Regions from separate parts of the Homo sapiens genome. Here region 1 is linked to region 2. The links come from fine-mapping of genetic effects on plasma protein levels. Region 2 holds a variant in brackets. A gene starts in the other region. All regions are shown on their forward strands.

Region 1 (5,380 bases), not on the chromosome of region 2:
ACATAACTGTATATGTTAATAGTAAAATCATTAATATGCCAGCTTATACAATATACTTAAACAGCCATACTTTTCCATTTTCCTATTAAAGGTAGTTCTAGTATAATTGTCTCAAGTCACAAACATGAGAATTAATTCCATTACTTATTTTTAGAATAAAATGTAAAAAATTTTTACATATCAAATTTTTTTGTGTGTGTGCGTAATATTGCTGTAATTTACCTTCTTAACTGTAAAAGAATAAAATTAACTTGAGGTCATTCTCAATACAAATTTATTAAAGTTTTGAAAATCATGGATAGGCCAGGCACAGTGGCTCATTCCTATAATCCTAACATTTTGGGAGACTGAGGTGAGAGCACATAACTTGAGCCCAGGAGTTCAAGATCAGCCTGGAAAGCACAGTGAGACCTCATCTCTACTAAAAACAAACAAACAAAAACAAAACATAATTAGCTGGGCATGGTGGCAAGTGCCTGTAGTCCCAGCTACTCAGGAGGCTGAGGTGGGATGATCATTTGAGCCTAGGAGTTTGAGGCAGCAGTGAACTATGATCACAGCACTGCATTCCAGCCTGGGTGACAGAAAGAGACCCTGTCTCTAAAACAAACAAACAAACAGACAAACAAAAAACAAAAAAATAAAATCATGGGCAAACTCATTAATCATTTTACCCTTGACAACATAAAAATGATTGGCATGATAAAATATTCACATTAAAATCAATGATTTAACACTTACTGTTGGTTTTCTGAGCAGGATGAAATATCTACTTTATCTTTAGAAAGAAAGAAGGTGGAAGGTTTAGAGCAGCATATATATTACACATATTCCTGTTTTGTCAAACTCTGGTTTTGTTAAATAAATCTAAGTCAACAAAGTTCTGAAGTAGTATTTTTCATACCAGTAACCTTAAACTTCATTGTCAGTTGTCTGATAATGCTTTTGACATTATTTGCTTCCCACATAGTTTTTAACATGAGTAAGTAAATCATGCCCTCCCTTTCTAATCAGTTCTCCCTTCTCCTTAGGCACACGATAATCTGCATGTGGCCTTTTTGGACTAGTATTTCTATATTGACAACCCAAGACAGGTTAACTACTGTGAAGGTTACCAGGATTCTGCCTTATAGCTGAACTCTCATAGTTCAGCTGTCTATGATTTTTACTTTCTAATTATCAACTACCTGTAGCTTATTGGTTACGGGTGCATTCTTTGGAAACCATCAGGTCTGGGAAATCTATGCCAAGCTTCAGTGTTTTTCTTATGTAAAATGTAGATTTTTATATCACAGGTTTTTGCTTTGAAGACTGGAAGGGACAATGTATGTAACACCTCTAATACAATAAACACATTATGCACATAATACAAATAAACGGAAATTATTCATGTTTTTATTATCTTTTGCAATGTCTGCTAGTTTGTTGAGCTCATAAGAGCTTTCTATAAACATATGCTGTTTGATTGAATTGCTAATTACTAAGTGTTTAAGAGACATGTGTTTCCTTCCAGGTGTTATAGGAAAATACAATCAGTATAATCTAATTCGAGATTCACATGTTCAAGGCCTGGTTCTATTAGACACCTTCTGGCTGACTTTAGGAAAATGCTCTAACATCTGGGCTGTTGTATCCTCATCAGCTCATTGAAAGCCATACACAGGAGCCTGAAGAGTTTTGTATAGCTCAATCACCCAGTGTATGCATCTGATGAGCCAGAATTCTATAATAGGCCATGATGCCATACTCTCCTCTTTGCTGCTCTTCTCTCTCATAACCTCAACCATCTAACCTATACTCATCTTCATTGAGTCAATGAAAGCAATGTCACTGTTGGTGAGAGTATATTCAAGGAAAAATATTTTTTTCTATTCCATATAATTACATTTTATTCCTTTAAACCCATATTGATATATAGTTGAAAAGTTGGCTACCATTTTTTTTCTTTGCTACTTACTAATGGTGAAGTACTGTGCTCTTTCTTGCAGGTGTTTTAAGATCAGGATGACATGGTTTTCCTAGAGTGTCTTTAGGAGGGCCATGGTGTATAATTTTATAACCCTAGAACAAGGAAACAAAATATTTAAAATAAAGATGTGAAGAATACCCTTATAGATGGTATCTATAATCTTTGTCACAAACTTAAATTTTGACTCAATTGTTTAGTATTGTTTCTAATAATTTACTGTATTTATTTGATTTCAGCGTTAAGACCATATTGTCCTTCTGAGGTCAGATTGTATTTCAACGCCCTGATATTTCCTTCAAACACTAACAAAAAAGTGGACTTCTTGAAGTTCAGTAACTACTAGTTGGCTAACTTGCTTGGAAAATTGCAACCTTTTTTCAAGACTCCCAACCCCTTATCTAGGACTTCAACCCATTCTTTAAAAGATCATTTCCATAAGCAGTGTCCCACATGGTAAGTATTAACTACGTGGATTTGGGGGTAACAGCTTTGTCTCTTCATTTTTTTTTTAAATTCTGGAAGCCAATAGATGATATAAAGTCCAGCAGAGTCAATGACCCCAACTCTAATTGTTATTACAGTTTCTAATAACTGTACATTCAAAACATCAATTAGAAACTAAGAGTCTTAATTTGACTTCGTAAAAAGCAGATTGAGAAATGACTTCAGGCTTCTACTATGATTCAATGGGTCTTATGTACTTAGAATGATTTCTCTTTTAAGGTAGGTAAAGAGTTTCAATAGACTAAACATAGAGAAGCATGTTGAAAGTTATGGTAGGTCGGCGCTAAGCAACAAAATTGAACTCTCAGTCTGCCCGGCATTAGCTATGTGCCCTCCAGATGCCGGAAGAGGAGCGAAGGAGGATCAGAAACCCCCTCACCTCAACGATGGTTCTCTCCCCTGTGCTTCACCCCACCTCCCCGTCCCTAGCCATTTCTAGTCTCCAATCCGGGTCTTACATTTACCCTGGCTCCAGAGCACAGACCTTCCTGCAGTTGGGCCGGCGCGTTGCGGCGTTGAGGAGCTGCGGCGCGCCCCTCTCACCGCGATTGTTCACTTGCCAGGCGCCACGTGTGGGCGACGTCACTGGGCTTTATGCTTTCATCGCCGCTATCTGCCTACGTGAGCTGCTCTCCTCCCATCGCCCCCGCCTCCCCTACTACGGAGAAAATCTTGCACGTTTTCCCTTGTGAAAAGCAGAGTTCTCTTTTTCTCATTACCACCAGTTGATGAGGAAAGAAAATGTCTGTTCGCATACCTGCGCCGTACTAGGAGGAGGAGGGAGGTCATATAAGGATTCGGGTTGCCCAGGGGGTGGCTTGAAAAAGGAGGCGTTCGCATTCAAACAAGAATGCCTGAATTAATGTAGTTCAATTTAAAGAGCTAATTAGGAGTCCACAGGTGCTTAAGTTTGCAGTGCGCTGCCAGTGTCATGCCAACGACGCACTCCAGTTACACAGGTTGTCAGTTTCAGGCTCCCTCATAAACACTTCATGTTCTTGTCCCTCTTCCCCGTTGGCAACAGTTTTATGGTGAGAAAATTCACGAAGAGTAACAGGAACAACTCTTATGAAAATACGCAGAACTCCTGACCCAAGGCTACTGGCTGCAAGTTTAGCATACGTATCAAGCATGGGTTAAAGACATGTTTTCTCTCTCAGAAGGCGGATGAGTAATAGGTGCATTTTCTTCTATTCACAGTTGTTTTCAAAGCGAAAAGGAGTGAATTCGCTTATGACCTAGAGGAAGAGAGATGGGTCAAAAGATGTCAAGCCAAGGATTAATATCCGTCATACCTTGGTTCTCTGTAAGCCATGCAATAAGAGGCTTGAGATTTCACCAACTCTGGAGACTCACTTGGGCACAACTGAAACTATAACAAACTTGGTGCTCAGTGCCATTTTCCTTTGGCAGTGTTACAAGGTAATTTCAAGGGATCAGCACACAGACATTGTTTTAGTTTTCTTTTGCTGCTTATTTCAGTTCATGCAGCACTGACTAAAAATTTTGGAATTTAGACTGCTTAACGCTTATATCTACATCCAATATCAAAATTCATTACTGACAGTTTGCCTTTCTAAATATTTATGAAATCTAGTCCTCAATCTGTCCCTCACTTCTATATTCATGTTTTCACCATATCTTGCTTAAGTTATTAATTGGACATTTCAAATACCTATATGCACAAAATCTCTGCCTACCTATTTGTTCTTTCTTTCTAGTGCCGAACAATTCATTCTCAGCACTATAATAGTCTATCATTTACTGTGAATATCTTATTTTTCATTTTTGGAGAAGAGTCATTCCTGTAATTATTACTTGTTCCCATATTCACATTGATGATATCAGAATGAGAGCAACTTGAGCGCTGTGGTGCCAGATATTGTTGGTGAACCTGAATTTCAGAAATTGGCTATGTCTGTCTTGATTATTGCTGTATCTCCAAAACTAACACAATACCAAATATAGGTGGTAGTTTGTAAATATTTGTTAAGTGAGTAAATATTGACCCGACATAGATTCTTAGAAAATACAGAAAAAAGGACATAAAATCTCTTTCTTCTAAGACTCATAGTACTATGAGAGAAAGGAGTATGTATATGAATAAGTAAAGAATACTATTAGGTAGTGTAGTTTAATGCTAAGTAGGGCGACCAAAAATATATACAGTAATTGAGAGTTCTGTGAGTTGATATGATCTGGGTAAAACCTAGGAAAGTTTTGACATTTGAACTGTTATTGAATAATGCGTATGGCTTGATTTGAAGGGAGAAAGAGTTGAAGAACAAAAGCAGATAAATCATTATATCACAAGGCATATTCAAGACAGAAAGACTGTTGAAAAGGTTGGGGAAACTTTGTATAGAAGTCTAAGGAGATTTGCTTCTCTGTATAACATGGGAAAGTAATTTCATTGACATTTTGGAGGGTTGGGAAATTCTTTGATCAAAAGAATGTTTCATAAAAGCCACCTGATCTCACTGCATGGGGTGATTTACAGAGCTGAGAAATTGATGGCAGCAAAAATAAGTGTGGTAACAATTCCCCAGATTAATTTTGTAGTAGTAGAAATAGGACAAAAGGGTGGAATATGAAGAGATTTTTAAAAAGTGTTGATAGATTTTGTATGAAGGGCAAATCCAGAATAGAAGACTTGTAAGTTTGGTGCCTGAATGTGTTGGAGAGCACATGGAAAGTAGATCTCCATTACTGAGAGGAATAGTACAGGTACTTCTAAGAACATTGCCAGGAGTCCTTTGCTTTTCTAGAAGGGCATCATTTGTTAGTTCCTTTTTCTATGGTTTGGAGTAAAAGAAGCAATGATTAGAAATGCATTCCTCATAGTAGGCTCTATAGCAGATTCTACTGTATAGGATATAGTTAAATACCAGACTTTAAATTCTCTTG
Region 2 (5,353 bases):
GTGCATGCTCAATATATTAATATCGTATAATAGCTATGTTCATTTCACTGCTCTGTGATTCAGTTTCTTCGTCTGTAAAATGTGAATAATAATAAGTGGCTGGGTGCAGTGGCTCATGCCTGTAATTCCATCACCTTGGGAGGCCAAGATGGATCACCAGAGACCATGAGTTCAAGACAAGCCTAGACAACATAGGGAGACCCTGTCTCAATTTAAAATAATAACAGCAACTACCTATAAAAGTGATTGCAAGGACTCAATTAGTTAACATACATAAGCTGGGCGCGGTGTCTCACGCCTGTAATCCCAGCACTTTGGGAGGCTGAGGCGGGCGGATCACGAGGTCAGGAGATAAAGACCATCCTCACTAAAGCGGTGAAACCCCATCTCTACTAAAAATACAAAAAATTAGCAGGGAGTAGTGGCGGGTGCCTGTACTCCCAGCTACTCGGAAGGCTGAGGCAGGAGAATGGCGTGAACCCGGGAGGTGGAGCTTGCAGTGAGTCGAGATTGCACCACTGTACTCCAGCCTCGGTGACAGAGCAAGGCTCTGTATCAAAAAAAAAAAAAAAAAAAATACATAAAAGCACTTAGATCCCTATTGTCCAGTGGCCACTTGCCACATAAGCGCTTGAAAAGGGCTAATCTGACCAGGGGTGGTGGCTCACTCCTGTAATCCCAGCACTTTGGGGGGCCAAGGTGGGTGGATCACTTGAGGTCAGGAGTTCGAGACTACCCTGACCAACATGGCGAAAGCCCATCTCTACTAAAAATACAAGAAAAAATTAGATGGGCATGGTGGTGAACACCTGTAATCTCAGCTACTTGAGTGGCTGCAGCATGAGACTCACTTGAACCCTGTAGGCGGAGGTTTCAGTGAGCCGAGATCACATCCCCGCACTCTAGCCTGGGCAACAAAGCGAGACTGTCTTTAAAAAGAAAAGGGCTGGCCGGATGCGGTGGCTCACACCTGTAATCCCAAAACTTTGGGAGGCCGAGGTGGGCAGATCATGAAGTCAGGAGATCGAGACCATCCTGGCTAACACGGTGAAACCCCATCTCTATTAAAAATATAAAAAATCAGCCGGGCATGGTCGCAGGCAGCTGTAGTCCCAGCTACTTGGGAGGCTGAGGCAGGAAAATGGCGTGAACCCGGGAGGCGGAGCTTGCAGTGAGCCGAGATCACGCCACTGCACTCCAGCCTGGGCAACAGGGCCAGACACTGTCTCAAAAAAAAAAAGAAAAGGGCTAAACTACTTTAAGATGTGCCGTAAGTGTAAAACACCAGATTTAGAAAACTTTGTACCAAAAAGTAAAATGTCATTGATATTTGTATATGGGTAAGATATTGAAAAATATTTTGATATTGTGGATTTAAGCATGCATGGCATTTTGATCAATGATGGACCATATATAAAATGATGGTCCCATAACATTATAATGGAGGTAAAAGATCCCCTGTTACCTAGTGATTGTCACAGAAATCCGCGCCCAGCCATGTTTGTGTTTTAAGCTATGTGTTACTACAAAAGTGCCAAAAAGTTTAACAAAACCAGCCTGGGCAACATGGCAAAACTCTGTCTTTACAAAAAATACAAAAATTAGCCAGGTATGGTGGCGCGTGCCTATAGTCCCAGCTATTTGGGAGGCTGAGGTGGAAGGATTGCTTGAACCCAGGAGATCAAGGCTACAGTGAGCAATGGGTGACAGAGCGAGACCCTGCCTCAAAAAAAAAAAAAAAAGGTAAGCATTCATGAAGTAAAAAGTTACAGTTGGCAGGGTGCATGGCTTACGCCTGTAATCCCAGCACTTTGGGAGGTTGAGGCAGGCAGATCACTTGAGGTCAGGAGTTCGTGACCAGCCTGGCCAACATGGTGAAACGCTGTCTCTACTAAAAATACAAAAATTAGCCAGGCATGGTGGTGCACGCCTGTAGTCCCAGCTACTTGGGAGCCTGAGGCAAAAGAATCACTTGAGCCCAGGAGGTGAAGTTTGCAGTGAGCCAAGATCACGCCACTGCACTCCAGCCTGGGTGACAGAGGAAGACTCCGTCTAAAACAAACAAACAAACAAAAAAAAACTGACAGTAGGCTAAGGTCAACTTATCAAAAACAGAAAAAAAAAAATTTTTTTTTAGGGATGGGGGTCTCACTATGCTGCCCAGGCTGGAGTGCAATGGCTATTCACAGGTGGAATCACCATGCACTACAGCCTTGAAATCCTGGGCTCAAGTGATCCTCCTGTCTCAGCCTCCCAAGTAGCTGGGACTACTGTGGTAGCTGTGCCACCGTACCCAACTAGAAAGTTGTTTTTTTTTTTTTGAGATGAAGTCTCACTCTATTGCCCAGGCTGGAATGCAGTGGTGCAATCGCAGCTTACTGCAACCTCCACCTCTCAGGTTCAGGCGATTCTCCTGCCTTAGCCTCCAGAGTAGCCGGGACTACAAGTGCCCGCCACTACACCCAGCTAATTTTTGTATTTTTAGTAGAGACAGGGTTTCATCATGTTGGCCAGGATGGTCTCGATCTCCTGACCTTGTGATCCGCCCACCTTGGCCTCCCAAAGTCCTAGGGTAGGTGTGAGCCACCGTGCCCGGCCTATTTTTTATCTTTTATACTGTATTTGTACTGTACCTTTTCTATTTAGATTTGTCTAAACACACAAATATTTACCATTATAGTCCAGTTGCCTATGGTATTCAGTACAGTCACATGCTGTATAGGTTTGTAGCCTAGGAGCAATGCGCTATACCATATATCCTAGGGTGCAGTAGGTTTGTGTAAATAAACTCTAGGATGCTTGCATAAGAT[A/G]AACTCAGGGCTGGGCACAGTGGCTCACGCCTGTAATCCCAACACTCTGGGAGGCTGAGGTGGGCAGATCACCTGAGGTCAGGTGTTCAAGACCAGCCTGGCCAACATGGTCAAACCCCATCTCTACTAAAAATACAAAAATTAGCTGGGCATGGTGGCGTGTGCCTGTAGTCCCAGTTACTCGGGAGACTGAGACAGAGAACTGGTTGAACCTGGGAGGCGGAGGTTGCAGTGACCCGAGATCGCGCCACTGCACTCCAGCCTGGGTGACAGAATGAGACTACGTCTCAAAAAAAAAAAATTAATTTCCATTTCTATTTAATTTTTAAATGTGGCTACTACAAAATGCAAAGTTAGAAATGTGGCTTGCAAATTTTTCTATTGCATAGCTCAAGCTTAGAACCTTCCTGTCGTTACAAGTTCTAAGTTTGGTTTTTATCTCGCAAGCAGCACTACTGTGTGGGAAGTTGTGGGGGGTATGGAGATGAAAGAAGAGGGGCGCTACCTCCTGGGAAGTGACAACCTAGCGGGGGAAATAGATGTATCTTCCCAGTGGGGGTGAGAAGTGTCATTCTCACCTATTTCAGCAGCCTTGGTGGTATGAAAAGGCATCCCAACCAGCACAGAAGCAGGATGCCTCCAAGACTGCCTTGGTTGGCACCTGCAGCCTGAAGGGGGAGAAAAAGGCTTTGCTAGCTCCCCTACCATCGAGGATGAAGACCCCCACTGTACACAGTGTATAAGGTTTCTTTCCATGTGAATCCCAGTGACTCTCCTTAACTGGGTGGAGGTGGAAGGTGTCATCAGCCTTGTCCCAGATCGAGCCCCTCAGGCCCACAGAGCCCCAGTGGGGCCTGGCTATTACTGACACTCATGTCACACTGAGATGTAAGACGGCAGCCCAGGCCAAGCTTCCCCGGGCCCCCTCAGATTCTCGGGCCCTCCCACTCCCCTCAGGCTTCCTCGGCCTCCCTGCCAAACATCTATCTCCCTTTGGACCCCACTGCTCCCCAAAACTCCCCACGCCCTTAGTCTGTTCCTTCAGTTCCCCAAACTCCTTCAGCCTCATCTAGACTCCCCTCCGTCCCTCTTCTAGGACCCCAAAAGCTCTCCTCGGCCCCAGGACCCCGCAGAGGTCCCGTAGTCCCATCTCTGAGACCCCACAAAGCCTTTCGGACCCCTCAGGTGGCCCTTAGGCCTCCGGAGATCCCTTGGCTCCCCACACTCTCCTCAGACCCCAGCTCACCTTAGCCTCGCCCCGAACCCACCTCACACACCCCAAACGCCCACAAGACGCCGCTCTGTCTAGTCTCTCCCAACTCCCGCGCACCCCCGGACGTCCCCCCCACCCCAGGCCCGGATCCTGGAATCACCTGGGCCCCGCGCCCCACGCCCCGCCGCCGGGCCCACCTGCGCGCCCAGCTGGTTCAGCTGCTGCATGTCGCCGCCCACGGCCTCCGGCACCGGGTCCTCAGTGCAGTGCAGGCGGCCCATGGCGCGCGCCCCAGCCCCGCAGGTTCCACCGCCGCCGCCGCCCTGCTCAGCTTCCTCCTCCGCTGCCGCTGCCACCGCTGCCGGCCTCTCCGCGCATCCACAACCGCACTTTCGCCACGGCCGTCGCAGCGCACTCCTCCCCCGGCCGCCCTGGGCTGTCCGGAGCCGGGGAGCCCTCGCAGGGCCGCGGACACGCGCGGCCGCCGGGCTCCGGGGAGGGGCAGGGGCGGCGCCGGCACCGGCAGACGCGAGGTTTCCTGCCAGCTCTCCCGCTGAGTGACCTTTGGGTACGGCGCTTGGCCTCTCTGAACCTCAGTTTCACCATCTGAGAAAATGATGGCTGGGGTAGCTCCTTAAATGAGTTAAGCCTCCAGAAATGTTTAACGCAGAGACCGGCACACAAGAGGTCTTCAATCAATGGCTAGCTGCTATTATCATCATCACTGTTACTATGCACTCCAGAGATATTTATGGCAGCCTACTCGATGCCAGACACTGGGGACAGGGAAGGGAACAAAGCAGGCCAGAGTGTCTCTCGGAGAGCTGACATCAGAGTAGAGACTAGGTCTCAACCTTGGAAGGGCATCAGCATCACCCCAGCATCACCTGGTATTGCCGGGCCCCGCCCCCAGAGGATCTGATTCGAAAGGCCAGGGTGGAGCCTGAGAATTTGCATTTCCAATAAGCACCCAGGGACTACACTTTGAGACCTTCTGGAGTGGAAGAAACTGACTTACCAAAGTTTCCTCAAAATAGTGCGAGGGCTTTGACTGTGCGGGGCAGGGAGGGTGGTGGTGAGGTGGGTGAGGGGAGGTTACTGAGACCGTGATCATCACTGCAGCCCCTCAAACACTCTAACCCCCATGCCCTCTCTTCCCAGGGGCTCCTCACAGTTCCCAGGTGAATATTACCCTAATCCCCACTGGAAACATGAGAAAATAGAGACATGCTACCCAGAATCTAGGAACTGAACGCCAAGCCTAAGGGCTTCACCTAGCCCCTAAGTCCAGCCTTGAGGGTAAAGAGGTAATGCCGAGAAACCTGGAGCA

The links. PIP is the chance, under the fine-mapping model, that this variant and not a neighbour inherited with it causes the effect. The UK Biobank Pharma Proteomics Project read protein levels with antibody pairs (Olink). The fine-mapping took linkage between variants from a reference panel, not from the people measured, so its PIPs are less certain.
Region 1: CRISP2 starts here. The variant in region 2 is fine-mapped to the plasma level of the CRISP2 protein (UK Biobank, PIP above 0.99).

The regions. Positions count from the first base shown.
Region 1 is chr6:49,710,544-49,715,923 of GRCh38, forward strand. It overlaps CRISP2 (cysteine rich secretory protein 2), which reads right to left and starts at 3,000. Exons shown (of 10, transcript NM_003296.4): 1 at 2,932-3,000; 2 at 1,958-2,061; 3 at 742-778.
Region 2 is chr20:32,739,088-32,744,440 of GRCh38, forward strand. It overlaps COMMD7 (COMM domain containing 7), which reads right to left and starts at 4,380. Exons shown (of 9, transcript NM_053041.3): 1 at 4,221-4,380. The coding sequence starts at 4,304. RefSeq lists enhancers at 2,045-2,546, 3,216-4,043, 4,931-5,353 and silencers at 2,997-3,171, 4,156-4,225, 4,406-4,635. The variant A/G (reference allele first, on the strand shown) is at 2,811.